2 separate regions of the Homo sapiens genome follow, and region 1 is linked to region 2. The links come from fine-mapping of genetic effects on gene expression. Tissue or cell type: subcutaneous fat. Region 2 holds a variant in brackets; the other region holds the start of a gene. All regions are shown on one strand. Distances are from middle to middle.

Region 1 (16,077 bases), 32 kb after region 2:
GAGGCAACAGATACGTTCCACCTCTCTGAGCCTCGCATGCTTTACAAGTGCCAGAAATGGACGTTGGATACGGAGGCACCGTGTGAGTTGTCACACCCTCTGTGACTATACAGGTTGTTGGTGTTTTCGTCTTTGTTAATCGCCCAACAGTGCTCACTGCTAAGGAAATGTAACAAAATGTAACGTGACGTTCAGTGTTCAGCGGGACTTGGAAATGTGTTGCACGTGTGTGTGCAAATAGGTTAGAGGTGGGGGCCGGCCACATGTGCTCTGCTTCTCGTCTGCCTTCTTGGAGCGCCCACAGTCATGTGTGTACCTCAGCCCTCAGCGGGTTGGTCAAGCTTGGACTTTGCCTGTGGAACCAATGCAGGGGCTGCTGAGCTCTTCTGATTCTCTCTCGGGAGCCTGGGGCTGGGAGGCCAGCAGCAAAGTGTGGGTGCTGGACTTATTTATGGGTGAGGCTGACAGTGCCTTTAGGCTCAGGCAGAGCAGAGGGAGCCAATGAGCAGAGAGAAAGAGAAGGTGGAAGAAGTCAGGCAGAGAGACCCAGTGCCTTAGAAGGAGAGGTGGCCACTGTGCTTCCTGGTGAGGTTCCAGGGGATGTGCCTGACCTAGCCCCCAGCCGGGGGATGTACCTGGGCTAGCCTCCAGCCACGGGATGGGCCCAAGCTAGCCTCCAACGGGGGTCATGCTGTGTTTGGAATTGGTTTCTTCCGGTGGATTCTTGGTCTCCCTGACTTCAAGAATGAAGCCGCAGACGCTCGCGGTGAGTGTTACAGTTCTTAAAGATAGTGTGTCTGGAGCTTGTTCCTTCAGATGTTCAGATGTGTCCGGAGTTTCTTTCTTCTGGTGGGTTTGTGGTCTTGCTGACTTCAGGAGTGAAGCCACAGATCTTCGCAGTGAGTGTTACAGTTCTTGAAGGTGGCACGTGGGAGTTGGTTGTTCCTCCCAGTGGGTTCATGGTCTCGCTGACTTCAGGAATGAAGCCACAGACCCTCGTGGTGAGTGTTACAGCTCATAAAGGCAGTGTGGACCCAAAGAGTGAGCAGCAGCAAGGTTTATCATGAAGAGCGAAAGAACAAAGCTTCCACAGCATGGAAGGGGACCCGAGTGGGTTGCCGCTGCTGGCTTTGGTGGCCAGCTTTTAGTCCCTTATTTGGCACCCCCACGTCCTGCTGATTGGTCCATTTTACAAAGCACTGATTGGTCCGTTTTTACAGAGTGCTGATTGGTGCAATTACAAACCTTAAGCTAGACACAGAGCACTGATTGGTGCGTTTTTACAGAGTGCTCATTGGTGCATTTACAAACCTTTAGCTAGACACAGAGCGCTGATTGGTGCATTTTTACAGAGTGCTGATTGGTGCATTTACAAACCTTTAGCTAGACAGAAAAGTTCTCCAAGTCCCCACTCGACCCAGGAAGTCCAGCTGGCTTCACCTCTCAATGCCTAGGCTAGCAGCTAGCCACAGGACAAGCCCCAGCTAGTCTGAAGCCAGGGGTCACGCCTGGGCTAGCCTCCAGCCAGAGGATGTGCCAGAGCTAGCCTCCAGCGGGGGTCATGGCTGGGTTAGCCTGAGCAGCCTCCTCTTCCTGGTAAGTGAACACTGTCACCCACTGACAATGGAGTCTCTGGGAGGCTCTGAACACATGTCGCTCAGGGTGGCTGTGAGACCACAGCATTTCTTTCTCTCTCTCTGTTTTTTTTTTTTTTAACTTTTATTTTAAATTCAGGGGTACATGAGCAGGTCTGTTACATAGGTAAACTTGTGTCATGGGGGTTTGTTGTACAGATTATTTCATCACCCAGGTATTAAGCCTAGTACCCATTAGTTATTTTTCCTGATCCTCTCCCTCCTTCCCTCCCATCCTCCAACTTCTAAACGGCCCTAGTGTCTGTTCCCCTCTTTGTGTTCATGTGTTCTCATCATTTAGCTCCCACTTATAAGTGAGAACATGCAGTACTGGGTTTTCTCTTCCTGCATTAGTTTGCTACGGATAATGGCCTATTGCTCCATCCATGTCCCTGCAAGGGATGTGTTGTCATTCCTTTTTATGGCTGTGTAGTATTCCATGATATATATGTGCCACAACTTCTTTCTCCATTGATGGGCATTTAGGTTGATTCCGTGTCTTTGCTATTGTGAATAGTGTTGCAATGAATGTACATGTGCAGGTATCTTTATAATAGAATGATTTATATTCCTTTGAGTATATACCTTGTAATGGGATTGCTGGGTCAAATGGTATTTCTCTCTTTGGTCTTTGAGGAATTGCCACACTGTCTTTCACGATGGTTGAGCTAATTTACACTCACACCAACAGTTTATAAGTGTTCCTTTCTCTCCAGAGCCTCACTAGTATCTGCTGGTTTTTTTTTTTTTTTTTGACTTTTTAATAATAGCCATTCTGATTGGTGTGAGATGGTATCTCATTGTGGTTTTGACTTGCATTTGTCTAATGATCAGTGACGTTCAGCTTTTATTCATATGATTGTTGGCTTCATGTATGTCTTCTTTTGAAAACTGTCTGTTCATGTCCTTTGGCCACTTTTTAATAGGGTTGTTCCTAAGCAAAAAGAAAAAAGCCGGAGGCATCACTCTACTCGGCTTTGAACTATACTACCAGGCTACAGTGACCAAAACAGTATGGTACTGGTACAAAAACAGACACATGGAGCAATGGAACAGAATAGAGAACCCAGAAATAAGACCACACACCTACAATTATCTGATCTTCGACAAAACTGACAAAAAAAGCAATGGGGAAGGATTCTTTATTCAATAAATGGTGCTGGGATAACTGGCTAGCCATATGCAGAACATTAAAACTGGACCCCTTCCTTACACCATATACAAAAATTAACTCAAGAGGGATTAAATACTTAAATGGAAAGCCCCAAACTATAAAAACCCTGGAAGACAACCTAGGCAAGCCTTTCAGGACATAGGCATGGGCAAAGATATCATGATGAAGATGCCAAAAGCAATTGCAACAAAAGCAGAAATTGACAAATGGGATCTACTTAAACTGAAGAGCTTCTGCACAGCAAAAGAAAGTATCAACAGAGTAAACAGACACCCTAGAGAATGGTAGAAAATTTTTGCAAACTATGTATCCGACCAAGGTCTAATATCCAGAATCTATATGGAACTTAAAGGAGACCACAGCCTTTCTAAGGTGACAGGAGATTTTCCTTGTGGCACATACTTGGTGACTACAGGGCACCTCCCAGTAGCTCAGTTCCACTTTCAGAGCCCTGGAGCATCATGGGGTTCTCATGCCCATTGTCCTTGGGCTGGGGTCCTGTTCCAAGGCACACTCCTGCCCACTCTCGCAAAAATCATTTTGTGTGCACATGGCAGGCCTCAAACATGTCTCCCTGTCTTTGTCCCCACTGTTTGCCTTCTTGTTTTATTTAGAAATCAAGAGAGAATCTAGGCTTGGGAAATGGCAGAGATTTCCCCAAGCTTAGCACAATTCTTTTATCTTTTTTTTTTTTAATTTAATACCATTAGGTCATCTCTTTTAAAAGAATTTCTGGGAAAATCTTTATTTTGTGTATTTCTCAAGCATCTTGACATTCCGTCTCAGAGTAATGGCCCAATCACTTCCTCCCAACTCCCCTTCAAATTCCCTGTCGGCTTTATCTCTTGCAAATGGCTCGGTGCTGCAGAGCAAACTCCCCGTCCCCGGCCCCTCCACCCCCCTCTCTGGGGACAAAGAAAGGGCCCCATACTCTCACTGAGGCCTTTGGGCAAACCAGATACATCATCACAGCCTAAGACAAGGAGGAGGCCCGGGACCCTTCAAAGATGCCTGCTCCAGAGTCCGCACACAAACCTCTGCCTATTAACTCTTTCAAAGAACGTTTGTTGGCTGCGAAAGTCGTCTGGGTTCATTGATAAAAAAAAAAAAAAAGATATTGTCTTTAGGGCTGCTGAATATATTAATGAGTTGTCACGGAGGACAGTTAGGATTTGCAAAGGGTGATAGTTACCATTCACCTACTTGTTGCCTTAAAAGATAAAATCATGTGCAAATGAAGACAGAGCTTTCAGGCACCTCCGCCAGAACACACTTCATTTGAGGCGACGGCAGGGATGCTACTAAAACCCCAAAGAGTTAAGCTGAAATGGTTAATATTCCTGTCTCTGCCCGCCTCCTCCTGTATTCTAATGTATGAACCCGCTCATTCAGATGTGAGTGGGACTTGGGGACAGCTTGCCTTCCCTACGCGATTGTGTATGGCCCCCGCTGAAATGTTCCTAAAAACACGATTTTGTAAACGCTTATGCTCCACCAGACATCCAGCGCATCTACTGGATGCCCAGCGTCTACACCAGACGCCCAGCGTCCCGAGTGGGGTTCACTTTGTCTCTTCACACCCAGGGACTCTCAGCCTGAGGTGAGGGAAAGGAAGGGGGGTTATTAAGAATTCTGACAAGGTAGGCTGAATAAATTGTGTTTTCTTTGTGAGCCTTAATCCGGTGTTGTATTGGCTTCTGGACATGGCTAATTTATTTGGAATTTCATTCTGTTCCTGACAGCGTCCTTGACTAGCTGTTTGATCACCCCGAGCAAAGTTACATACCAGCTTTCAACCGTTGGGAGGGCAGCGGCGTCCTTTTTCTCAAGTGCCTTCTCCTGGGTCGGGCTTTATGCCTGCAGCAGGGCGTTTCAAACGGCTGAGGCCATCCCTTGTTAGGGAGAGAAACCTCCCGGGCAGGGGTCTCCCTCAATGAGGAAGCCCTCCACTTCCCCCCACTCGTCCCACTGTTCGTGATTTTAATCTGCTTTTGTGGCGCAGGAAGAAAGAAAATTAATTTTCGCCCGTCTGTGTGTAGGGAGCATTTCAGTGGAAACCCGGTTTGAAATGCATGTTCTGTTGATTTCGGCAGCCTGCGCCGGCTGGGGTTTTGAGATGCAGCATTCTCAGGGGAAGAGGTGATGGGCCACAGGCCTTCGTGGGGTGGGAACTCAGGCTCCCCGTGGGCCCTGGACGGGGTCCTCATGTCCTGTGCTCCGTCTTGGCAGGAGTAAGAGTTGATGATGTTCATGCTCTCCCAACTCACCCATCTCTGCCATGGTTGCTTTTTTTTTTTTTTTTGGTTAAAGCAAGCATATTTTGCTGTTGCAAAAAGAAACAAAGAAAAAAATGATTTTCAACAGGACCCTGACATGTCTGAGAATGTCTCACTGTCAACAAGGCTGTAGGTGGTGGTTTTACAATTTTGGCGGAATCTGTTCTAAGGAAAACACGTGCTTCTTTTAATTTGGCCTCCCAGCTCCAATGCACGTGGCCGTCCTTGCTGAGAGTCTTCTGGGTGCCTGGAACTGTGCTAAGTCCTGGGGGATTCGGCGAGAGCTCGAGTTCTAGAAACACATGGAAGAGTTCAGAGGATGTTGGTGCTATGAAAATAACAAAACCAACCAACACACTGAGGCCCTGGGGGATGTGCCTGGTGGTCCCTGGGGGAGGGCGTTCAGTATTATTCCTGGGTCCTGCATTTGAGTCAGCCAAGTCCAGCTCATCTCGATGACATTTGGGCGGGGATTTCCCCTGCAAAGCACTCTTATCCCCAGCCTTGCTTGCAGAAGCTGGGAAGGGATTATCATCCCCTCACCGTTTTTTTTTTTTTTTTTTTTTTTTGAGATAAGGTGTTGCCCAGGCTGGAGTACAGTAGCTTGATCATGGCTCACTGCAACCTCTGCCTCCCAGGTTCAAGTGATCCTCCTGCCTCAGCCTCCTAGCTAGGTGGGACAACGAGTGTGCACCACCACATCCAGCTAATTTTTGTATTTTTTTTTTTTTTGTAGAGATGGGGTTTTGTCATGTTGCCCAGGTTGGCCTCGAACTCCTGAACCTTCTCACGTCGGCCTCCCAAAGTGCTAGGATTATTTTCCCCTTTTATTGAGGGGAGGAAACTGAGGCCCAGTGATGCTTCAGTGGAGACCAGCTTGCCTGGGGCTCACAGGAAGCTGTTCACAAGGTTCTTGGGGCTCTGTCCCAGGCTGTCACCTGTACTGAGGGCTGGTCCTGGGCGGGGACCAGGCTTTGGGGGCAAGAACTTGCACCTCCTTGTTACTTCCACTCCAGGCCTTCCCCACGGAGCTCACCTGTGGAGAGGTTTCCTCTGCCAAGCATTTCATCAGGAAACAGTGAGTGAGGGTGCGTCACTCACTGCTCTGTCAGCGTTGAACATTTGGGTGCAGGAAGATGCCTTGGCTCTTTGAGGTCCCGATGGCAACTTGCATCCCCAGATCCATCCTCAGAGGCCCGGGGCTGGGAGCATCCCCGGATCCATCCTCAGAGGCCCGGGGCTGGGAGCATCCCCGGATCCATCCTCAGAGGCCCGGGGCTGGGAGCCACCACCGCCCAGCTCCATGCGTTCCCATTGGCGGGGTCTGGGTCTGCGCTGATGAGGCGCTCGTCACTCTTATCCTGGATTATATTCACAGGCGGGTAACTCGGGGGGTGGTGTGATGGGGAGACACAGGAGGGAGGAGCAGGGAGGGCAAGATGAAGGGGAGCAGTCTGGGAAGGGGGCGACTCCAGGCACAGCCGCACGTCCCTGGGATTTTCAGGGGGAGCTCTGGGGGTTCAGAGTGGCCTCTAGTTTGTCCTGGTCCAAAGCAGGGAAGCTGGGCTACGTCCTGCCCAGGTCAGCCTTAGGTTAAGGGCTGCCTGGGGGAGGGAACTTCCTGGGCCTTCGGGTCTCTGTGCACTGGGGTGGCTCCTGTGGCCCAGAATGCCCTGGAGAAGGGTCCTACTGGAAGCGAAGGTGCAGGGCAGCAGGGCCTGAGGCGCAGGAGCTGGTGGAGGCTCCCAGCACAGGTCGCCGCCCCAGTCACATCACTGCTGATGGTGGGGGGACTTGGGGAGTTTCCCCCGAGAATGGGAGGTCTCACAGTCCCCGTGCTGCAATGCTGTCGGTGCACTGTGTCTGCAACGTGCTCATGGTCACTTGCTTTTTCTCTGTGGCCCCGGCCGCTTTATCCAGCAAGTAGCCCCCTCTCCTCTCCGGAGAAGCCGAGCCTGGATGCCGCTGGGAGGAGGTCACTCCCTTCCTGTCTCGAAGGGCATGCCGTCCTCGTCCTTGCTGACTCCCAGAGGCCCAGGGACGTCTGAGGGGGAGGGGCCGGGCCTCCTTGACCCCTGCGTGTGGACACCATGTGACTGGGGTGTGGTTGACTCTCTGTGTCCGATTGGGTGCTTGGCAAACACAGAGAGTTTTGTCCAAGGCCACCTTGGTCCCCACCTGTCCAGGTTGGGAGGTGCCCTGCCTGGTGTGGCCTGAGCTGAGCGCCTCTGGCCGGAGCAGACGGCCCCGGCTCCCCCAGGACATGTCACCTGGAGAGGTGGCCCTTTCAGGTAAGGGACATGCCCATTGGCAGCAGCCTCTGCCCCCTCCCTGCATACACAGCTGCTCCCATCTGGGGACCCTCACCCCACGTGCGGATGGGCTTCCCCAGGAAGTCGGCAGGACTTTCCCTGGCCTTCTGGAAGTCCCCATCAAGCAAATGCTCTATCGATGACTTACTCTATGACGGGGTCCAGAGAGCTAACTCCCCACCCACGTTCGAAGTGATCTTCAAACCGCTGCGCGTGGAAAACAAGCCCAGAGCTCAACGTTCCCTAAGTGAGTGGCCTTTGACAGCAGTGCCAGGCAGCCCAGTGGGTGCAGGGCACACCACAGATGGAGGAAGGGCCAGGCATGCTTCCCAGACAGCCTCTGCCAGTCCAGGCAGGGGCTCCAGGGTGGCTGCGGGAAGGCAGCTTAGGCGGTGCCCGGCCCAAGGTGAGTTGGCATCATGCTCCACTTCCCGTTTGAACGTGTGGTCCCGTTTGAACCTTCTGGAAAGGCTTGGCAGGGAGGACACTCATTTTGTAGACTGGGAAGGAACTGAAGAGCTGGCTTCCGGCGACCAGCGATGGGCCCCAGATCCCTGTGGCCAGGAAGGCCCCCATTGCTGTTCTCTGTAGCTCAGGCTGGACATTTGCTGGTGAGAACTGGCCGGACTCCCAGGACCCAGCCGCCAGAGACCTCTGTTCCTCACGCTCAGCCCCCTAGCTCCAACTGGGGCCCCTTTGCTTTACAGGATGTAGGCTTGGAGTTAGAGGGGGCAGTTCTGGCGGTTTATCTCTCACTCACAGAAACTCGGCTGTGAGAGGCCAGAGCTGGACTTGGGGGGCAGAGCCTGTAGAGGTCAATGTGTCCTTATTGGGTGTGCACACGTGTGAGTCTGTGTGCACACACATGTATACATGTGTATGCGTGTGTGTGTGTGTGTGTGCGCGCGTGTGGCAGTCAGAGAAGGCTGGGCAGACACTGTTATTTCAGAAAAGATGTGGAGGCCTTTCTGAAGGCATCCACTGAGAGGCAGGGGCCAGGATCTCTGTGCCCAGGCGCTGGGCGTGGCCCCTGAGAAGTGCTCTCTCCCCTAATCCTTCAAAGCAGGAGGTATTTGCTTCACTTTCTAAGGCAGGATCTGCGGCTCTGAGAGGTTGCACAACTTGCCCGAGGTCACTCAGCTAGTAGAAGGCAGGACTGGCCTCCGGTCCAGGGTGACTGTGAGGATGTCAGGGGACCCTGCAGGCCTGTGCGCCCCAGCTTAGGGCTACAGGTCCCACCTAAGGCTTCTTGATGGAGGTTGGAGGGGCGAGCTGGAGGGAGGTGCTGCTGGGGGTCCACCGGTCCCCTTCCTGGGGGATGAAGCCGGTTTCCCGCGCTGACCCCCTTGCCATCAGAGGCCCAGAGCGCGGTCCTTGTGCTGCTGAGCTGTGTTTGGGGCCGCCTGTGGGCTGTGGCCGCCTGTCCTCATCTTCTCCCCTTTTCTCCTTGGCTTTTCATCCTCAGGCTCCGTCCTTCTTCCCCGTGGTGGCCCCAGCCTCCCTGCCAAGCTTCCCGGCCCCCGCCCCATCCCGGGCCTGCTGCTGCGGAGACCGTGGGCCGGCGCTGGACGGCGCGGCCTCCAGAAGTGATAGCTAATTGGGGAGAGAAAGGGCCCAATTGTCTGGCGGGGCCGGAAGAGCCGCGTGGGCTGCTGAAAGCGTCGGGAGGAGGTGGCCGCTTCGCCCAGCAGCTGCCGCCGGGGATGTTTGCAGATTACGTCAGCGCTGGCGAGCAGGGGGCGCGGGGACAGCGAGGGGGGCGGGCTCCCGGCGGCCTCCCGCCCCCCAGGCCCCTGGACAATGCTGTCATTGTCAGCACGGAGAGTGGTTAATTCTGGATGAATGGTACACGGGCCTCTTGACCAAGGAGGCTGCTCGTCGTCCCCAGTCTGTCCTCTCACATGCCAGGGAGGCCCCGGGCTGGAGTCTGGCGGGCAGATCTGGCCTGCTTGGTGGCACCAGAGAGAACAGGGCGGTCCCTTGGGGGCGCCGGCTGCAGAGGCCCCAGGCTGGACGGAGCTTCCTGTCCTGGGTCTGCACAGCAGCCACTTGGCAGTGCCGGGCTAGGGTGGCAGGGCCCCACTGCATCTCGGTTCCAGGGCAGAGGCTGCTGCTGCCCTTTGGGGCTGACTTCAGGCATGACCTCCTGGCCAGGTGGCAGCTTTGGCCCTGACCCGCTCCTGGCCCTGCTGGTGGTGATCCTGCTAGCACGCCTCATCCTGTGGTCCTGCCTCGGGACCTACATCGACTACAGACTGGCCCAGCGGCGGCCCCAGAAACCCAAGCAGGACTAAGCCTCTGCAGGCTGCGGCCTCCACGCGCCCTGTCCCGAGACTCAGCCGGCCCTTCCAGTGGTGGTGGGAGGGAGGGGAGCAGGGCAGGCGCATGATCCCCATGTCCCACCCCTGGGGCAGGAGCTCAGAGAGGCCTGAGATGGATCGTGCCTTCCCAGACTGACCAGGGCTGTCCCGTAGAGGCAGCTGGCCATGTGGGGAGATGGAGGGGCCGGCCTTGCAGGTCCATCACCAGGTTCTGGGGTCCCCGGTTGCAGGGAGTGGTCCTGGGGGTGGGTCTTGCTTTAAGACCTTCTCTGCCTCCAATTCCTTATAAATATGCCTGCAGGAAGAGCTGGGTAAGCCAGAGGACTCAGGTGGAGGTGCCACAGAGACAAATGTGACCTCATCACAAGCTGGCCCTGTTACCAAAGGCCACGTCCTGTCTCAGCTCACCACCCTCATAACTAGTCTCCTCCTGCCTCCCAAGGGACGAGATAAGTGCCGATGGCTGTCCTGATTTCTCCAGAGCAGACCCCTGGGAAGGGTCTCAGGACGCACTTGTGAGGCTGAGTTGACAAGCCAGACGCACTTGGCTCTGGTTGACCCTCTGCACACTCTCTAACGGTCTGAACAGTTAGGGCACAATGATCCCTGCCTCCCTCCCTCAGCAGGATATCATGTAGGGGACAATTTAGGGGACAAGCCAAGGCACCCATCAATGCCCTCTGTTCATCTGTTCCTGCAAGTGTGTGGCTGGGAAGTGCCCAGGAAGGCTGACAGGGCAGGGAAGTTGATTTGAGGCCAAGCATCCAGTGCTCCTGCTCCACCTCCGTAGCACGTTAGCCGTGATGCCAGTGACTTAACCCACAGCTTGGGGAAGCTCAAAGGCTCCACATTCGAGCCTCTTGGGGGAAATTCGGCAAACACCCATGTCCAAGTTCCACACTGTATTTCCTGGGATCGTTCCAGCAGATCGTGGATTGCAGCGAGGGCTGCTGACTGCATGCGGAACTGTGAGATGGAAGGGACTGTGGGCGGCAGCTCCAGGGAGGAGCATCGAACCAGATATCGTCTCTGGGAGGCTGGGCCTGGTGATGTGGCAACGTCTTGCTCCCTGAGAGGTGATGGGTATGCTAGGGATGCTCGCTCAGGGAACGTGGGCCAAGTCCTCTGAACACGAAGCTCGCAGAGGGGGTGATTCCTGTGAATTCTGAAAGGACTTGGGGGCGTCCAGCAAGAGCAGGAGCTTAGATGGTGGTTCCAGGGCTGGTGTTGCTGACTGGGACGAGTGGACCCCCAGGGTGGGCATGGAGTGGGGCACTGGCTGGGAGCCTCTGCCTTGCTGTGTCCTGGCTGAATGAACCCAGGTGAGGACCAGAAACGCTGTTATCACTGTTTCTGCGGCACCCGATACACTCACCTATGCCAAGGAAATTTTTTTTTTTTTTTTGGTTTCTACAGGACTTGCTGTGCTCAGATCCTCCATTCAAGAGAGCTACAGACACGGGGGTGCTGGTGAGCAGGAGCCGAGACCATCTGGGGTGGGACCGACCAAGAGTTTGAGGTGTCCAGGGGGTGACGTGAAGATGACCTATTGCAGAGGGTCCCTTCTCATTCACGCTCTGAAGTCTGCACAGGGGCAGGGGCTACCGTGCTCCATTTCAGTTTGGCCTCTGTTGTATCAGCCAGAGGCCAGCAGAACTCTATGGTCACTCCCCCGTGTCACGGACAATTTGCCACCTCCACCGGCAGCCCAGGGCTCTGCCTGAATATTCTCGCCTGATCGTAGGATTGTGGGGAGGGATATTCTCATTGATCTCTAAGGAAAATATTGTTCGCTTTTTAAAAACATGATCTGGTACCATTTCATTGATCTCTTTAAGGAAGAAAAATCACATGGTTGTCATGAGCATGTACCGACAGAGCTAGGAGGGCCAGCTGTTCCGGGTTGCCCAGGGCTGTCTTGTTTTTAAAATGGAAAGTTCGATGTCCTGGAAAACCCCTCAGTCCTGGGCAAACCAGGTCACGCTGGATAGAAGGAGTTAGACATTCATATGATGTGCCGATGTCTTGCCAGTTGTAGAGTTTTGTGTAAACCTGTGTGTGGCCTGCGTGTCCACATGGGTGTGTAGGATGGCACCTACACACATACCTGAGGTCACCTCTTGGTCCAGTGAGCCAGAATCCTGGGACTTCATCATCTTTTTTTTTTTTTTTTTTGAGATGGAATCTCACTCTGTCACCCAGGCTGGAGGGCAGTGGCGCAATCTTGGCTCACTGCAACCTCCGCCTCTGGGGCTCAAGCAATTCTCCTGCCTCAGCCTCCCGAGTAGCTGGGATTATAGGCGTGTGCCACCACGCCCTGCTGATTTTTGTATTTTTTAGTAGAGATGGTGTTTCACTATATTGGCCAGGCTGGTCTTGAACTCCTGACCTCAAGTGATCTGCCTGCCTTGGCCTCCCGAAATGCTGGGGTTACAGGCATGAGCTACCATGCCCGGCCTCAGAATCCTGGGACTTCTGCTGGAGCCAGGGGTCAGAACAGACTCCTCTACTGGGACTGCCTGGCAGGGAGGACAGACGCTCAAGGCGGCCCCATGAGAACACAGCCACCTGGAAAAATGGTGGAAGGGAAGATTCTGCCAACCTCCTCCGACTCCCTATCTCAGTTACACTGGTCCATAATTTCTTTTCTTTTTCTTAAGTCTGTTTCATTGGTTTCTGTTCCTGGAAAATGGACACAATTCTGATGAATTCATGTATTCTGCATCCACGTGTCAGCATCTCCAGCCTTGTGACGCAGTGCCTGGCTCAGAACAGGCAATCAGGCCATGGCATCTGAATGAATGAGAGGGTGTGCCCTGGCCGTATCTCAGGCAGCAGATGCATTCAGCTGCAGGTAACAGACACGTAGACAAACAGTGGCTTAAAAAAGAGAGGCTTTAAAAGTATTTTGTTTTTCTTTCTTCACGTAGCAAGAAGTCTGGCATTTGGCATTCCCAGGCTGTGGCGTGACAGCTTTGTGAAGTTATCAGGGTCTCAGACCCTGACATATTTCTGCTCTGCTACCCTCAGCATGTAGATTTGATCTTCACGGCTACAAGAAACCTGCTGCTACTGCAGGCATCTTACACGAGTTCCAGGCAGGAAGAGAAAGGAAAGGGTGACAGAGACAGAAAGCAATGTCCCCAGATACCCTTAGTTTTCCATCTCATAAGCCAGAATGATGTCACGTGGCATCCCTGGATGCACAGGAGGCTGAGAGATAGTGGCGTTTGTTAGCTGGTCTCCTAGCCATCCTGAATGCCAAGTTTGTTATAAAGAAACAGAGGCAAAATGGCGATCAGGCAGGCAACTGGGTGGTCTCTGCCACGGGCCCCTTGGCCATTCTTTGTAATGATGGTCTTTGTCTTGGACCCTATTTTGGATATTTGGGCACCTTTGTGGTACCCTTATGTGCTGGTTTTGCTGTTGTCTGCCCTTCAGGAATAGCAGCTGAGTCAAGCTGTCCTTGGCTGCTCCAATCTGGAGTCAGAGGTTGGAGATTTCCATGGCTCCCCATGGCTCCTTGGGGCCTCCTAAGAAAATGTTTTAATAAGGAAGTCCAAGGCTGAGACAGACATGCTCCTTCTTAGAGACACATGGGAACATGCCTCTGCTCACAGCTGGTAGCCACAGATGTAAACCGTAGCCCATGGAACGGAGACAGTGAAGAATTGATGGATAAATGAATAATGATGATGGACAGCAGATGTATAAAAGGCATAAAAGGATAGTGTTAGGGCTGGAATGTCTTCCCCCCAATTCATATGTTGAACCTTTAATGCCTAATACTTCAGAAAGAGACTGTGTTTGAAGATATGGTCTTTACAGAGGGAATAAAGTTAAAATAAGGTCATTAGGGTGAGCCCTAATCCAAAGGATGGGTGTCCTAATCAGAGGAGGAGATTAGGACCCAGACACACACACACACACAGAGCCAGGTGAGGACACAGGGAGAAAATGGCCACGTACAAGCCAAGATGAGAGGACTCAGGAAGAACCAGCCGACTCCACCCTTCAAAACTGTGAGAACATAGATGTCTGCTGTTTGAGCCACCCTGTCTGCAAGCAGTCAGCAAGCATTCATTGAGTGCTTGCAGTATTCAAGGCACCACAGATACAATGTTGAATAAGGCAAAGCACCTGCCCTCAGGTAGCTTGCAGTCAGGGAGGTAAGGGTAGTGGGCAGAGAGACCTGGAAACAGATATTAGACCTGCACTAAGCATGTGTGGTTATTGAACAGTAAAAATGCCACCACAAATTGCGATATGATGTAAGTAAAATGCGTACTGGCTATTGAAGACTTGGCACAGAAAAATAATGTAAAATCTCATTAGTAATGGTTTTATATTGATTACGCATTGAAATAATACTATTTTGGACAGATTGGGTTAAATAAAATATTAAATTTGATTTCGCCTGTTTCTTTTATTTTCATTACTTATTGGCCATGATATTTTATTTAACTTTTAACTTTTATTTTAGATTCAGTGGTACATGTGCATGTTTGTTATACAGGTAAACTCATGGGGGTTTGGTGTACAGATTCTTTGTCACCTGAGTACTAAACTTAGTACCCAAGAATTATTTTATCTGATCCTCTCCCTCCTCCCACCTTCCACCCTCAAGTAGGCCCCAGTGTTTGTTGTTCCCCTTTATGTGACCATGTGTTCTCACAAGTGAGAACATGTGGTATTTGGTTGTCTGTTCCTGTGTTAGTTTGCTATGGACAATGGCCTCCAGCTCCACCCATGTTCCTGCAAAGGACATGATCTTATTCTTTTTTATGGCTGAATAGTATCCCATGGTGTATATGTACCACTTTTTCCTTATCCAGTCTACCATTGATGGGCATTTAGGTTGATTCACCTATTCCTTTTAATAGGTCTTAATATGGCTAGTAGGAAATTTAAAATCACATAGGTAGCTTATATTATTTTTGTTATGGACAGTGCTGTGCTGGACCTTCATAATGCAGTAAAAGGGTGGCGGGTGAATGCATGGTGTGTTACAGGAACGCAGGAGGGAGCTTCTTGGAGGAGGTTCTTAGTCCATTTATGCCTGAGGTTGCCGTTTTTTAAATTTTTGCAATCAGACCTTGGTGATGACCTTGAGCAGTAGGATATATAAATAACTCCCACATGCTCAGCATTCCAATAATGGAACACTAGGCATAAATGGGTTGAGTGATAATGTTTGGACTGCAAACCAGAACCTATGAGATGCAGCTAAAGCAATTCTTGAAGGGAAAGTTATAGCCTTAAATATTCATATTAACCAATAGAAAGAATGAAAACATATGGATTAGGCATATGGCTCAATATATTGAACATAATAGAAAAAACTAAGAAAAACAGAAGGAAGAAATAAAGATAAGAGAGGAAATATATGCATTAAGAAGCAATAGAATTAACAAATGTACCCAAGTGCCAGATTTTTCAGGGGCATAAAAAAGGATGCTGTTAGTCAATCCTATCAAGAAAAAAGAAGAAAACATAAATGAAATAAAAGTCTATGGGGAAAACAACCGCAGAGACATAAAATGGCAAATAACCACAGGAAACTGGCACTGGGATACATAAAAGATTTTGAGACTTTGAAAACATAGAAAATATAATTTATTTTAAAAAAGACTCCAAAAGAGATGTAAAGTCTAAACAAATTGATTACCATAGAAGAAATAGAAAGTTGTCAAAGTCGACTTTCCTTAAAAAAAAAAAAAAAAAGCATCAGGCCTAGAATGTTTTATAGGAGGATCCAACCACACCAAAAACGAACAGGTAATTAAACACTATTTAAACTGTTCTAAAGCATAAAAGAAGGAATATTTTTAACTTCTTTTTATGTAACAAGCATATCATTGATGCCAAGATCCATCATAGATGGCATGGAAAGAGAAAACACACACCAGTGTTGTTTGGGAACATTGATGTAAAAATATTAAGTCCCTGAATTAAGCAGCACATTAGGGGAGTAAATCATTGCAACAACTGAGCGGAATGGATTCCAGAAATGCAAGGATGGTTGGGTATTAGAAAAACAATTAGAAAAGAGGAAGAAATCAGAGGTGCAAACACTGGGAAGGAAAATCATTATTTACAGAGAGATGGATGATTTTCTTGGAAAATGGAAGAGAGTCAACCAGAAGCAATTGCAAATGCTAATACCAGAATTCAGTCAAGTGAGTGGGTCTAGATCAATACAGAGAAACCATACACACAGCAATCCACTAGATGAGAAGCATGAAAGACCCCATTTATAAGAGCAACATAAAGAGCAGAAACATGGTTGGCCACTGTGGGTGATCAAGTTAGGGCTCACAGTGATTTCCTTTAGTCTGTTTTCATGTGCAATCGCCATGG
Region 2 (16,077 bases):
AATTTCCAGAGGACCTGGTGTTGCTTGGCCGGCCCCCTCCAGCAGTGACTGGAGGTTGCTGAGTAGCAGAAGCTTTAGGTGGGGCAGGCCCTCACCTGTCTGCCACAGCGAACCCCACCCCTGACCCCCGACCCTGCCTGGGACCCCTGACCTGGTCTTCCCAGTCCATTTCACAGCCAGGTAAACTGAGGTAGCTCAGGGTGAGTTATTGCCAGGCCTGGGCTGCCCAGGGCACCCGGCCCACGGGGCAAACCCCAACACAGCCCTCAGTTTACCAATTCTCGTCACATGGAAGCCACCTGGGGGCTTCCCAGGGTGTTCTGTCTGCCCCCCTGTCCCCAAGGGTACCTTGTGTCAGGTTGGGATGACTCAGAATAATCAAATATGGCCACGTCTTTTGGGATGAGCAGCCATTTATCGTTTATCCTGGGGATCAGAGTTTTTTCCTCTGTAAAGCTGAATAATGTCGCCTGGTATAGCCCTAGGTAGTGTTACTTTGAAGGCTGAGAGAGAGAATGTGAAAGCGTTTTGGAGCCTGAAGAATACAGAAGGGAGAGACGTGGTGAGCATCAGGGTAGTGCAGTGTTATCTTCCTGAGCTGTACGGGGAGCGTGGTTAGGACAGGAGGGACAGACCGTGGTGAGCATCAGGGACAGTGCAGCGTCCCCTCCTGAACTGTACGGAAAGTGTCCTTAGAAACTTCAGGAACTCCTTCCGTGGAGTTTCCCTGTTCTTTGCATCCATCCTGTGCTCAGCCCTGAGCGAGGCGCTGGGGAAGGGGAGCGAGAAGGGCCTCTGTCTCTGTCCCTCTGGGCGTTACATGACTCCAGGAGTTGGGTATTGAACGTCACAGGCATGGCTGCCCCGGGCTGCCCGAGCGGCTGGACATAGGTGGTGGGTGTGTGGGGCACGAAGGGTGCCTGGCTCAGGCTTCTGGGGACAGCTGAGTGCAGGAGCTGGGGCAGCAGTGAGTCTAGGATGGAGGATGCTTTGTGGGGAGACCACAGGGAAGACCATCTGAGGAAGAGATCCTGTGTGACTGGTCACCCACAGAGAGATGGTGGTGAGACCTCAGCATGGCTGGCTCAGAGCCCCTTCCTGAAATGGCCTGGCATCACGGTGATACAGGAACAGAAATTCGGAGCAAGGGGAGGACTACCATGCCTCTCTTCTGCACTCTTGGGGGCAAGGCCAGAGCAGGAATTGGGTGTGGTGGGGGCTACTGAGCTTGGGTCCTATGTTCACTTTCTCCTTCCATTTATTTATTTATTTATTTATTTATTTATTTATTTATTTATGAGACAGGGTCTGGCGTTGTTACCCAGGTTGGAATGCAGTGGTGCAATCATGGCTCACTGCAGCCTCGACCTCCGAGGCCCAAGTGATCCTCCTACCTCAGCCTCCCAAGTAGCTGGGACTACTGCTATAGTATAGTCCAGTGCCTAGACTGTACTAGTACTATAGGCACATGCCACCACCTCTGGCTGATTTTTGTATTTTTTGTAGAGATTGGGTTTCACCATGTAGCCCAGGCTGGTATCAAACTCCTGGGCTCAAGTGATCTGCCCGCCTTGGCCTACCAAAGCCCTGGGACTACAGACATAAGTCACTGCATCTGGCCTAATTACTTATTTTTTTGGGGATGGGTCTTGCTCTGTCACTCAGGCTGGAGTGCAGTGGCAGCATCATAGCTTAAGCAATGATTTTGTCACTGCACTCCAGCCTGGCAAACCTCAAACTCCTGGGCTCAAGTGAGCCTCCTGCCTCAGCTGCCTGAGTAGGTGGGACTACAGGCATGAGCCACCACATCTGGCTAATTAAAACAATTTTTTTGTTTTTGCTGGAGACAAGGTCTTGCTGTGTGGCCCAGGTTGGTCTCAAACTCCTGGCCTCAAGTGATCCTCTGAACTCAGACTCTTCAGTAGCTGGGATTACAGGCGTGAGCCACTGGGCCTACTTCCTTTCCCTTTAGACTCAAAAATCCAGTGTAGGAGCTTTGTGGTCCATTGAGTAGGCTGCATTGCCTAGCCTCCCTGTTGCTGGAGAAGTGTATCAGCTAGCTTTTGCAGTGTAACAAACCACCTCAAAACATTGTGGCTTAAAACAGCGAGGGTTCATTATTTCTCCAGGTTCTGTGAGTTGGCTAAGCAAGATTTCTGATCCGGGCTGGCCTGGCTGTGGCTGGATGGTTGGGGATGGCCTCTCTCCCATGTTGGGGGCCTCTGCTGGGACAGCGATGCTCTCCCTATGTGCTCATTCATCCTCAGGAGATCAGCCCGGCCTTGCTCATGTGCTGGCGGGAGGTCCCGGTACCGACATAGCAGCCTGCATGCACAAAAGCTTTTCCAGCCTCTGCTTGCATCCTGTTTGCTTCGTCCCTTTGGACAAAGCAAGTCACAGGCCAAGTCCAGATTCAGGGGTGGAGAAATAAACTTCATCTCCTGGTGGGAGGAGTGACATTGTCAAACAGTCATATGAGGGAGTGTGAATAAATTAGGGGTCATTACTGTCATGCTCTACCACTGAGTGTGTGACTCAGTTCTGGCCAATGAGATGTGAGCAGCGTGGGTCTTCTAGGAAGTCTCCTTCCAGGGAATTAGGCACACCTCCTTTCTCCCTTCCACATTCCTTGCTGCTTGGAATGTGGATGTGATGGCTGGAGCTCTTGCAGCCATCTTAGACTATGAGGTTGAGAGCCACACCCTGGGAGTGGTGAATTAGTTGGAAGGAAGCTTGGTTCCTGTTGACTTCTTGGTGCCTTAGACTGCCTATCCCTGGACTTCTTTTACATGATAGGAAATTTACGTGGGGTCAAATTTCATCCTGACTGATACATTTGGCAAAGACTCTTGTCTCTCAGAACGTGAGGATTTGGGTGGCCTCTCCCCAAAGTTAAGTGGATGGACTTAACACACATGAGGAGGGCAGCTCAGGTGCTTCTCAGGGGCCTGGATACCAACCATGGGTTTCTTGGGAGAGATACTCTGGAGGAACCTCTGGAGTTAGGGCACTAGGGACAAACTGGCTTTGAAGGCCTGAGATCCAGATGGGGAGAGTGGCAGCCAGTACCACTGTGCCCAGCACTGGCCTCACCCCTGTAATCCCACCACCAGCCCCTGTAGTAGCTCTGTCACTATTTTACGGGTGGAGTAGCCAAGGGGTAAAGTGACTTTTGCATAAGGCTGTGCGACCCAATGTGGAATGAAGATTCCAACCCGCAAATGACCTCAGGACCCTGACTCTGAGCCGAGACTGAAGCAGCCCATTCATTCATTCACTCACACACTCATCCATTCATTCAGCACTTTCTGAACACCTTCCATGAGCCAAGCACACCTCACAGTGCTGGGGCACCGCAGGGGACAGAACAGACCAAGTCCTATCCTTGTGGCTTGCATTCTCATGGGATCAGAGACTCAGCCCCCTGGGGAAGCAGGGTGGGGAGAGAGGGCAGCCTTGCTGGGGAGGTCTGGGGGTCTCCTTGGAGTAGCATGTCTGAATGGAAGCCACGGCTGGCTTCGCACCGCGGCTGCAGCATGTTAGCTGGGTAACCTCAGGCAGGGTCCACATTGCGCTTCAGTTTCCTCACCTGTAGAACGTGGCCGTCGACCTCCTGCTGGTGGGGCTGGTGTGAGGAGGTGGGGTACCCCACGCTCACAGCAGCATGCAGGGGCTGCTCCTCTGCGAGGACTTGGTGGCTCTATTTGTCCCTCCTAGAGACCTCCAGTCTTGGTCTGGCTCTCTCTTTAGCATGGAGCAGGAGATGAGGAGGTGGCCCTGACTACATCACTGTTGCTTTCCCAGGGTCCTGCTGATGCCTGCTGGCTGGGACGAGAGGGGGGTGCGGTCAGAAAGGGCCTGGTGCCATGTGGCAAACAGGTCGGGTGCACAGGTCACGTGTGAGAGTCCAGCCGCAATAGCGGCTCAGGATCCAGCAAATGGGCTTGGGCCCTTTGCTGCAGAGCTCTTGGGTCAGGTGGTCACACGCTCCTGTGTGCTAGGTCCCTGACATGCCAGGTGCAGGTGGGGGGTGCCCGTCTGCAGTCACGAAGGCTGGAATTCAATCCTGGCTGGGACCCTCACCGGGCAAGTGCTTAGCTGGGCACTCACCAGGCACCCAAAAGTGACCACTGCTATAATCATGGCAGCAATAAGTGTGACATACTCCAAGGTGTTATAATTTAAGGAACTTTCTTATGTGAGCCACACATATACTTGCCCACATGCACACACAGGCACAACACATCTATACAAACATGCACACACACATACATGCTTCTGCACACCAACACACATGTACATGCTTCTGCACACAACACACACAGATACATGTTTCTGCACACCCACACACACGTACCTGCCTGGGCATGCATGCACACACGTACATGTTTCTGCACACCCACACACACGTACCTGCCTGGGCATGCATGCACACAGGCACACAGCACGTACCCATAAGACTCAAGCATGCACACGCCCCTGTGTGCCTTTGGTCTCAGCCTTGAGCTTCACTTACCAAATGTGCAGGGGGCAAAGCCACGCACAGGCTGAGGGCGCCGAGCTGCAGAAGGCCCTCCCAGGGAAGGAAGTGGCAGCAGCTGTTGGGTGCGTGTTATATCCATGCCAGGCTCCTGCTCAGGGCTCTCTGTAGATTTTCTTCCATAAAGAGAAGATTTTCTCATCCCCATCATACAGATGTGGGCATCTAGGAAGGGGTATGACCTGAGAGGCAGGAGGTGTCCTGCCTGGGAGTGGCTCCCCCAGGGCTGGGGTGGCTGTCATCAAGCCCAGCTGACTACCTCCCCTGGGATTTTTGGGTAGCTGGTGAAAGGTTGGCTGGACCACTCTGTATCATTGAGGCTCGGAATTGGTGGTTTTGGTCGGGGGGGAGGGCCGTGGGAGCCAGGCAGAGGTGCTGGAGAGAGGGAGACAGTGCTACCCTGCACGGGGGTCCTGGGAGCAGTGGAACGTTATTCAATGCAAGTCATCCAGAGCCTAGGCCTTTGGGACCGCCTGCCCCCACCATGACCCTGGGGTGCCCAGTGAGGGGCAGGGGGCAAGGTGGGCCTGAGAACAGGAGTGGAGGCAGCTGGCGGAGGGCAGCTCGGAGGGAGTCAAGCCCCTGCCCATCTGTCTCAGCCCGATCCCCAGGGACTCTGGGGAGGCCCCTGGTGGAGTGTACTGCTCCGAGGGCAGTGGGAGGCATTGCTTGGAGAATTAAAGAAGAGCGTGATCCCAAGTGGCCGAGAACTTGGAGTGAAGAGCAGTGTGCTCAGGACCCATGTGGAAAGTGGATCCCGGCTCAGCCATCCTTCCCCACCCCAAGGAGCCTTTGGATCAGCCCTGCCCTCCCTGCAGCTGCACCCGCACGTGTCTTCCCAGGCTCTGAGGGGCTCACAGGCGGGTTGGGGCGGAGGGTCCCATGCCCTCTGGGAGCCTGCTGGAGGCACTGCACTGCAGAGGGCATGAACCTGCAGATTCTGGCCTTGCCACATCCTCAGAGTGTGGCCGACGGCAAGCTGGCCTCTCCACATGCCAGTTTCTGCCTCCCTAACGTGGAGAGGGTACAGCACAGACAACAGATACCACGTGAAAAGCCCCTACCCAGTGCCTGGCACACAGCGGGTGCTTCGGTTCTTATCTCATTGGAACTGTACATGTGCCTGGGGTGGTAGGAATTCCTGTCCCTTTTCCAGGTGGGGCATCTGGGACTCAGACCCATAAGTGGCTTGCCCCAGGTCGCACGGCCAGTTTGAGGTAGGGCCCCATGTCTGCGTATATGATCCCATCGTGAGACAGCACCTCTGAGCAGCCAGCCTTCCGGGGCGGCTAGAATACTCTTCAAATCTACAAGGTTTCATTTATATCCAGGGACAGCCATGCCCAGGCAGCGCTTGGCCAAGAGAGAGCACTGTGCTGGGAGTCCAGAATCTTGGCCCCAAATCCCGGCAGGACCCAGGGCAAATGGCTTCCCTCCTGGCGAGTGCCTTTCCTCCTCTTGGGCACAGTTCCGATGTTACCTGGGCTGGGCCATGGAGAATGCCGCCCAAGGGCTGGTCCTGGGCCATTGTTTACCCTAGTTCTGCATGGAGGGTTTGACCTCACGCCCGGCTCCCCACCTGCCCGCCCTGCTGTGCGGCCTCCTCCCTGCCTCGGCTGACTCACAGCTCTGCTATGCGTCCTGCAAACATTCCGGAGCCCTCGCCCTGCAGCAGTGCTCTCTGCATTGGTGGATAATAGGGCAGCACTCTGTACCCAGAACGGGAGGCATTTGGGTCCCCTAAGAAGCATTTGTCATTCTGTCCCTGCCTCTGGGCTCCTCGCCTGTGATCTCAGAAACAGGGCTGGGTGTGTCTCTGCAGCCTTCCTGGGGAAGTTTTCTTTTAATCTGCTAGACCCATGGCGGGGGGGCGGGGGGAGGGGAGCCAGAACACTCTGATCTGTTCCTGCCAGCTCAGGGACCTCGGGCAAATCGAGTCAGCTCCCTGTGAGAGGCGGGAGTGGGCGGCATCAGTGGTTTGCAGAGACGTAGGTTGCAGAGCCAGTGAGCCGGTGACATCTTGCATGCAGCCTTGATCCAGGGAGTGAAGGAAGTGCTCAGGCTGGGTGTGAGGGCGGGGAGGGGGCTGGGGCAGAGCTGGCTTTTCTGTGCGCTCTGCGGAGACCTCTGAATCTCCTCTACCCGTGGTGGGGGAAGCCCCAGAGTTCCCTGCACCTTTGAGGTCTCTCCTCACGCCAGCGGGCTGCAGCCCACGGTAGCCCAGGGTCACATAGTGGGGCCCAGCTAGAGTTTGAACCCAGAACTTTGTGACCTTGCACCCTGCAAGCATTCCGCTTGACCATTAGGGTGGTCAGCACCTGTCCCTGCCGCCGAATGCCAGCTCTGTGAGGTTGAGGCCCCACCCACCACTGCACCCAACACTGAGCATGGTGGTGAGTGCGCGCCAGGTGCCCAAGAGTCCTTTGCTGAGTGGGCGACGGGTGGGGTCCTCCTACTTCCCCCTGCCCTCCCTCCTGGCCCTTGCAGGGGCTAAGTACCTTTGTACCCCTGGGTGCCCCCGCCACGACCCTCCCCGCTGGCCCACTTCCCCCTTCCCTGTTCTAGCCTTCAAGGTCTGCAGTCTCTGGTCTCACTTCTCTCCTCCCCTGGTTCCAGTAGACAGCGGCCAGAGGAGGCGCTCCTGGGGTTGGATTCACTGTTGGTTTTAGGAACTGAGAAAGGCCCCCAATCCCCGAGAAAATCCAGGGCAGAATGTGGCTGAGGAGCTGGAGGGAGGAGAGGAGACCAGGCGCCCTCCCAGGGCCTCCACCTCAGGCCTGTAGATATGAGGTCCCCCAAGGCCTTGCTGTGTGACCTGGGCAAGTTACTCCATCTCTCTGGGCCCGGATAGGGATCAATGGATCCTATCTTGTCGGAATGCGGGGGCATTGAGGGCAGCTGGAGAATGTAAGCTTAGCTCCCAGACTGGTGCTCGGGAGGGC[C/T]GGCGAGGGTTCTGCTACGTTTATTACCACCTTTACTGGCGAGTTCAAAAGGAGCAAATCAGCAAAGGCCCCAAAACACTGGGGCCCAACAGACACGCAGTTTCCCCTTGAACAATGCACGTGTTAGGGTTGCGACCCCCTCCCCCATGCAGTGAAAACCTGCATGTAACTTTCGACTCCTCCAAAACTGAACTACGAATAGTCGACTGTTGACCAGAAGCCTCACTGATAACATCAACAGTTGATGGACAGATATTTTGTATGTTACATGTATTACATGCTGTGTTCTTACAATAAAGTAAGAACATGTTATTAAGAAAATCATAAAGAAGAGAAATATATTTACTATTCAGTAAGTGGAAGTGGATCATCATAAAGGTTTCCATCCTTGTCATCTTACATCAAAGAGGCTAAGTCAGAGGAGGAGGGGTAGGAAGGAGGAGGAGGAGTGGGAGGAGAGGTTGGTCTTTGTGCCTCAGGGGTGGTAGAGGTGGAAGAAAACCTGCCTATAGGTTGAAACCCGTGTTGTTTAAGGGTCAGCTGTAGACAGATGGCTCCCAACTTAGGATGCAGCTTAAGGATCTCTTGACTTCACAATGGTGTGAAAGCCATATGCGTTCAGTAGAACATCAGTAAATTCCATGAAATAGTAAACATCTTATTATAAAGCAGGCTTTGTGTTAGATGATTTTGCCCAATTGTAGGCTAATGGCAGTGATCTGGGCACACATAGGGTGGGCCAGGCTGCGCTATGATGTTCAGGTGGATTCAATGCGTTTGATTCAGTGGATGGGTTTGCTGGAACGTAACCCCATCGTAAGTTGGGCAGCATTTGTCATGCGAACCACAGAGATAATTTACAATTTTTGAGTAGCCACATTAAAAAGGTAAAAAGAAACTGGTGAAATGAATTTTAATCACATTTTATTTAACCCAATCCATCCAAAATATTGAAACAGCACATAATCAAAATTATTGGGATATTTTGCATTCTTTTGTATGTACTAGTCTTAAAAACCTGGTACTTACATTGAGAGCACCTCTTACTTCAGACACTACATGTTGAATGTCCTACCTAGACAATAAAGTTGTGTTGAACAAGAGGCTATTTCACATGGCTTCAGTATTTTTAATTTTTTTTTTTTGAGAAGGAGTATCACTCTGTCGCTTAGGCTGGAGTGCAGTGGCACAATCTTGGCTCACTACAACCTCCACCTCCCGGGTTCAAGCGATTCTCCTGCCTCAGCCTCCTGAGTAGCTGGGATTACAGGTGCACACCACCACGCCCAGCTAATTTTTGTGTTTTTAGTAGAGACAGGGTTTCACTATGTTGGTCAGGCTGGTCTCGAACTCCTGACCTAGTGATCTGCCTGCCTTGGCCTCCCAAAGTGTTGGGATCACAGGCGTGGGCCACTGCGCCTGGCCCACATGGCTTCAGTTTTTAAAAATTAAATTTAATGAATTTTTCTGCAGGTCTGTAGTAGGTGTATGTACCTGTGGGGTCCATGAGATGTTTGGATACAGGCATGCAGTGTGAAATCAGCACGTCCTGGGGAATGGGGTATCCATCCCACAAACATTTATCCTCTGAGTTACAAATAATCCAATTATTGCTTCAGTTTTTAAATGTAAAATAATTAAAATTAAATATATTTAAAAAAAACCCCCACAGTTTATGAGTCTCACCAGCCATGTACAGAGTGATCAGCAGCTGTGTGGCCAGGGGCTGGTGTGTGGGTGACGCTGGCCCAGGCGTCATCTGTGTCCTTCTACCCTCATCAAACTGCACCTGTCCAGGGCCCTGTCCCTCCAGCCTGTGCCTCTGCTGAGTGGCCCCTGGCTCACCTGAGGCTCTCAGGCACACTTGTCTGTGAGAGGCTGAACCCCACCTCCTGTTTAGAGGCATTTAGTGGACATTCGAGGGCTGATCAGATGGGGCTTCAGGCTTCTCAAAAGGGAGGCAGGCAGGGGAGGGGCTTTGCCTCAGAGCCCTATCTGCTATGAGGTTGAGGAGGGCACACAACCTGGTGGGGTCTGAGTCCTTGGGCTGGGTGCTTTGGGCCACATGCAGCCCCTCTCTGGGCCTGTCCAGAGGGCTCTGATGTCCCCTCGAGCTCCAGTCTGTCTACCTAGTACTTGCCAGTGCCCATAAGTCAGGAGCTGGAGTCCTTCCCAGAGACCTAGCAGCACCAGACGGTGCCTGGCGGACAGACGGCCCTTCTTGGTGGCCTGGTGCATGGATGCGGGTGCTGGCCTCACTGTGGAGTGCGGTCCGGAATGGCCTTTGTGTCTCACCTGCCGCAGGGGTCTGACTCTGACCTTCCTCAGGGACCCTACCATTCCAGGGTTCTGTACCCCATGCGGCGACTGTCCAGCCTTGCTTGAGGCCCACCTCTCCCCATATGCTGATGACACCGTCGTCCTGACAATAGCCTGAGAGGCAGGTCCTGTGTGGGTTGTACTCTGTGGATGGGGAGACTGAGGCACAGAGAGGTGAAGAGATTTGCCCGGAGTTGCAGAGCTCACGAGTGGCAGAGCTAGGAATCGGACCGGCTGCCTGGCTCGCATGCTCCTGAGAACTGCTGAGCGACTGTCCCCTCTGATAGCCAAAACCCTGGCTCTAGTCTTGGCTGTTCAGCCTCCTGGTTGCAGCTTCAGTGTCTCCAACTGTACCATGAGTGAATGGGACCCTCTGATGGCTAAGTTCCATCCAGCTCTGAGAGCCTCTGCATTGCCTGTTACTTTTTATTTTTAAAGTGATTTTGTTTTGGCGAGGAGGCTGAGGGAGGGTGAGGCCAGGTGGGTGGGAAAAAACATGAAATCGCTCAGCCCCAGGCCCTCCTAGCAGCTTAGTCCCTACAGATTGACGGAGGCCTTGCACACATTTCCCAGAGGCCGTGCTGGGAAGCCCGCCCAGCCGGATCCCGGCGCTTGGAAAAGCCCACTCTGTGTCTTGGCACTCGGGCCTTACAGCTGCCGGGGACTGGCTGCGTGAGGTCCTGGGGCTGGCGTGGCTGCGGCCGGGTGGGTGGGTGGGGGGGGGGTGTGCCGAGGGGCATGCATCCATCACTGCCAGCAGCTTGCGTGGGCCCTGCCAAGTCGTGGGGGAACCGAGCCCAGGTGCCAACGTGCTTGGTAACTGGCTTGCTATTTGAAAAATTAAAGCGGTGTCAAGAATATCTAACCTTTGCATTCATATCAGGAGTCTGGAGCCGGGCGGGTGGCAGCCAGAGTGGGGCTGTTTGTGCAGGGCGGCCAGTGGGAAGGCACCCTCGGAAGGAGCAGATTACAGCAAAGAACATTATCCACCCAGCACCCAGGAGGAGGCACAGGTGATAACTGGGGAGGGGGAGCAGAAAGCACAGGCGAGCTGACCTCTCTCTAGCTGCTGGGACCCCTGCAGGAAGGCAGCCTGGTGCGCACCTACTGTGTGCCGGGAGAATGTGCCAGGTGCTGGGGTGGATGGAGATGGGGTGGCACCTCCAGGACACACTGCGCCTGGGCCCATGATACTTGCAGGGACCCACAGTGATGTTTTAATGTCTTTTAAAATCAAAAGAAAGAAATGAACTTTTAGGTTGAAGAAATGATGGTTAATAATGTCCCCACATATGACCTAAAGTGATCTACAGATTCAGTGCAATCCCTATCAAAATAGCAATGACATTCTTCACAGAAATAGAAAAAAAACAATCCTGAAAGTCATATGGAACCACAAAACACCCCAATAGCCAAAGCAATCTGGTGCTAAAAGAACAAAACTGGAGGCATCACACTACCTGACTTCAAAATATACTACAAAGCTATAGTAACCAAAACAGCATGGTACTGGCTAAAAACAGACACATAGACACATGGACCACAATAGAGGGTCCAGATGCAAATCCATGCATTAATAGCCACTTGATTTTCAACAAAGGCACCAAGAACATGTGTTGGGGAAAGGACAGTTTCTAATAAATGGTGCTGGAAAAACTGGATATTCACATGCAAAAGAATGAAGTTGGACCCATACCTTACACGATACACACAAAAAGCTCAAAATGGATTAAAGACTTATTATGAAACTACTAGAAGAAAGCATAGGGGAAACACTTCAGGCTATTGGTCTGGGCAAAGATTTTATGGCTGAGATTTCAAAAGCCCTGGCAACAAAAGCATATAAAGAACTTGAACAACTCAACAGCAAAAAATCCAAATAAGATTTAAAAATGGGCAAGTATTCTAAATAGACATTTCTCAAAAGAAGACATACAAAGGGCCAACAAGTATATGAAAAAAATGCTCAACATCACTGATCATCAGAGAAATGTAAATTAAAACCACAATGAGGGCTGGGCGTGGTGGCTTACACCTGTAATCCCAGTACTTTGGGAGGCCGAGGCGAGTGGATCACTTGAGGTCAGGAGTTTGAGACCAGCCTGGCCAACATGGTGAAACCTGTCTCTACTAAAAATACACAAAATAGCTGGGCATTGTCATGCATGCCTGTAATTCCAGCTGAGGTGGAAGGATTGCTTGAACCCAGGAGGTGGAGGTTGCAGTGAGTGGAGATCGTGGCAGTGCACTCCAGCCTGGGTGACAGAGCGAGACTTCATCACAAAAACAAAAACAAAAACAAAAAACAGAAAACAAAACCACAGTGAGATATCTCATCCCACTTAAAATAGAAATAAAATTATCAAAAAGACAAAAACAACCAAACAACAAATGCTGGTGAGGATACAGGGAAAAGTAACTCTTATACACTCTTAGTGGGAATTTAGAATAGTGCAGCCATTATGGACAACAGTATGGAAATTCCTCCAAAAATTAAAAGCAGAACTACCATATGACCCAGCAATTCTGCTAGTGGGTATGTATACAAAGACTAGGAGATCAGCATGTGAAAGAGACATCTGCACCCACATTCTCACTGTAGTGGTAGTCACAATAGCTAAGAGATGGAATCAACCTATGTGCCCATCAATGGATGAATGCATAAAGAAAATGAAGTGCAAATACATAATGGAATACTATACGGCCATAAAAAAGAATGCAATTCTGTCATTTGAGGAAAAGTGGATGAGCCTGGGGACCAGGGAATGGGAAGGGTGACGGGGAGAGGGGAATAGGGAGAGATTGGTAAATGGGTACAAAATTACAGTTGGGCAGAAGGAATGAGCTCTAGTGTTCTATGGCACAGTAGGGGGACTACAGTTAATAATTTATTATATATTTCAAAATAGCTAGAAGAGAAGAATCAGAATGTTCCCAACGTAAAGAAGAGATACATGTTTGCGGCGATGGACATACCAGTCACCTGCTGTGATCGTTACTTGTTGAAATGGGATCATATACATGTATTGAAATATCACATGTGCCCTATGAATATGTACGTTATTATGTGTTAACTAAAAAAAAAATCCCCACAAAATTCACATCCACTTGGAGCCTCAGAATATGACCTTCTTTGGAGATAGGGTCTTTGCAGATGTAGTCAAGTGAAGAGGGGGTAGTTCTGGAGCAGGGTGGGCCCTGACCCCATGGCTGGTATCCTCATAAGAAGAAGAGATCCAGAGACACAGGCCGGGAAGACCATGTGCCGATGGAAGCAGAGGTTGGGGGGATGCGGCCATAAGCCAGGGAACGCCAGGAACCAGCAGAAGCTGGCAGGGGCAAGGAAGGACCCTCCCTGAGAGCCTTCAGCGGACCCAGCCCAGCCGACACCTTGAGTTTGGATTTCTGCCTCCAGAGCTGTGAGAGAATAATTCCCACAATTCTGAGCCACCTGTGGTAATTGGTTATGGCGGGCCCAGGAAATAATACAATGTATAATATTGATCTGTCTCTACTCCGGCATAGTTAGATCAATAGAATTCTTTGCAGGGTGCAGTGGCTTATACCTGCAGTCTCAGCACTTTGGGAGGGCTAGGCAGGTGGATCACATGTGGCCAGGAGTTTGAGACCAGCCTGGGCAGCATAGTGAGACCATCTCTCTACAAAAAATACAAAAATTAGCCAGGTGTGGTGGTGTATGCCTGTGGTCCTGGCTACTAGGGAGGCTGAGATGGGAGAATTGCTTGAACCCTGGGAGGTTCAAGGCCGCAGTGAGCTGAGATTGTGCTGCTGCACTCCAGCCTGGATGACAGAGTAAGACCCTGTCTCAATAATAATAATAATAATAATAAAATAATTTTTTTAAATGGAAGAAGGAATCTAAGTGTTCCTTCAAGGTGATGAACCTTGCCATTCCTGGGTGGGGGCCTTGATGGCGTGATGAGAGTGGGTGTGGGGGTTTGCTAGGTAGGTGGAATCTGCATGTGCAGGGAGGCGGGCCAGGGAAAGAGATGGAGCACTGGAATCAGAATCTTACGTTCCAGTCCTGGCTCTGCCATGTCTGGCTGTGTGGCCTTGAGAGGGAACATGACTTCCATAAGCCTCAGCGGCCGCCTCTGTTAACTCAGGCTCCCCACTGTAGAGGATGCTCCCAGGGAGTCGGGGAGGAAGTGCTATCCGATCCCAGGAAATGCAGCTTGCAGAAGCCCAGGAAATGCAGCTTGCAGAAGCTCAGGAAATGCAGCTTGCAGAAGCCCAGGAAATGCAGCTTGCAGAAGCCCAGGAAATGCAGCTTGCAGAAGCCCAGGAAATGCAGCTTGCAGAAGCTCAGTGGGGGGCCTCGAGGGCTGGCCGGTTCTACTGCCTGCTCAGGGATCGGGGCACCTCATAAATAAGGATATCTGTCTTCTGGAGTTTTCCATCCATGTTTCAAAAGAGCCGAGCCCTCCTTCCTTCAGAGGGTGTCCTCCCCAGCATTGTGTTCCCCTGTGACCGTGTTTCGATGTATTTTATCTATTCCTGACTTTGGAGGCCTGGTGATGTCAGAGGCCTGTTGGCTTGTGGTCCCTGCCGGCTCTTGTCCTGGAGGTCCTCTTAGCATCGTGCTGGTCCTAAACAGAGGCTCAGAAGGCTGTCCCCAACCTCTGCTGTCCCGGAGCCCCTTCCCTCTGGGTGTCTGTGCATCTAGGCCAGGCCTTGCTCGAGGAGGGTGCAGGCAGCCTGGCAGGGGAGCCTCTAGGCATGAGCTGGCCAAGGTCCCTGGCACTGTCCGAGCTGCCCAGGGGTGGCCCGGAAAGGTTCCCAGACTGCGATATCTCGATGGGCCACCGTGTCTTAGCATGGGCCGCCTGGTTTTCCACAGAAGATGTCTGGCCAATCCTAGAGCCACCAAATTTCCAGGCAGTGGGCTGTCCCATGTTCCCAAGAACAACCCTGGGCTGGCTGCCACACGGCTACTAGCTGTGTGTCAGGCCTACGTAGATGTACTTTGCATACACTATCTCCATTAGAGACTGGGGTGTAGATAGGATTGCAATCCACAATTCCCAGATGAGGAAACTGAGGCACAGAGAAGCTGGTAGGTGGCCCAGCCATGATGGGAAGCTAGGGTGGGAAGCGCTGAGGGAGCAGCTCTCCTCCTCAGGTATTCAGACCTGCCTAATGGTGCAAATGCCTCAGCCACATTCCTGCCTCTAGGTGGGGCATCTTGCACGTGTGTTCCCGAGGGCTTTGCCTGCTGGCTGGGAATTCCTGGGCTAAAGAGCTGAGCACTTGCATTTTCTGACTCCCATAACTGTTGGTCAGAACCGAGGTGGGGTGTAGAGGTCCTGAAGCCAGCCCAGAAAGGTCTGGTTTCTGACCCACCCACCAGCTGTTGCCTTTCCCTGCAGACCGGGAAACGCGGTGTGGACTCTCACTGCTTCTCCGGCTTGGAAACGGCGTTCCTGTCTTTGCCTTCTCCCTGGGGCTGGAATCCCTCCTGGACAGGCCTAAGGCATGTCATGGGTCCCCCTCCCTCCCTGCTGTAACCCCAGAGCCCCCATGGGGAACCCGCAGCTTCCATCATCCTCAGGGGCCCAGTGTCCCAGGAGGGGACTGTGGAGAGGTGTTTGTACTCCTGGGTGTGTCTGGGCTGCCACTTGCCCAGGGTCTGGGAGGTGACCTTGTGCCAGATGGGGCTGGAAGCTCCCTGAGGGTAGGGGCGGGGCTTACCCTGGTGCACCTGTGTTGCACGTGGCCTCGGATCTCGTTCCTGTCATGTCTTGGGGTCTTTTCTATTCCCAAGGTTGTCGTAGGAAGGCGTTTGCTGACAAATGAGACCTGGCTCCCTCCAGATTCTGATTCTGTCCCTCTCTTCGTGAGCCTGGATGGGTCGGGCCCCCTGAAGCCTCATGCTTTCCTCCGGAAAACGGGAGGAGGAGGCTGGCTTGCTGATCCCCAAGGTCTCTCTCAGGACAGCCTTAGTGGTTTGGGGGGTGATGCTGCAGTCAGGCCTGGGTGGAAGTCCCAACTCCATTCCAGCCTCCCTGGGTGGCACTGGGTGACCTGGCACCTCCAGACCTCCGTTTACTCATCTGTAAAATGGAGAGAACCCAGGGCCCCCTGGGTACCTGACCACAGGGAATGCAGCTCCTTGGTTGTTCAGCACCATTTCTGCCACGTAAAGAGTGTTGCTCCTCTTCCTTCAATGTCATTACTTTCAATGATGAGGAGAGTGAAGTGATTTTTTTTTTTTTTGGGTGGAGTGTTATTGAGCCATAATTAGCACACAGCAAA

Evidence for each region.
Region 1: it holds the start of SMIM38, and the variant in region 2 is fine-mapped to the expression of SMIM38 in subcutaneous fat (GTEx, PIP 0.99). The same link has a PIP of 0.9 or more in visceral fat.

Annotation. Positions count from the first base shown.
Region 1 is chr11:69,148,313-69,164,389 of GRCh38, forward strand. SMIM38 (small integral membrane protein 38) reads left to right here and starts at 7,623. Exons shown (of 3, transcript NM_001369201.2): 1 at 7,623-7,802; 2 at 8,862-11,039; 3 at 11,134-14,128. The coding sequence starts at 9,535. The coding sequence ends at 9,690. The region is part of intron 2 of LOC338694 (a long non-coding RNA gene); the gene reads right to left. RefSeq lists enhancers at 399-898, 7,177-8,104 and silencers at 5,449-5,743, 8,989-9,348.
Region 2 is chr11:69,116,745-69,132,821 of GRCh38, forward strand. No RefSeq gene overlaps it. Among named protein-coding and RNA genes, the nearest start is that of SMIM38, 31 kb to the right of the region's middle. RefSeq lists enhancers at 3,651-4,279, 6,037-6,331, 6,051-6,866 and a silencer at 6,037-6,331. The variant C/T (reference allele first, on the strand shown) is at 7,483.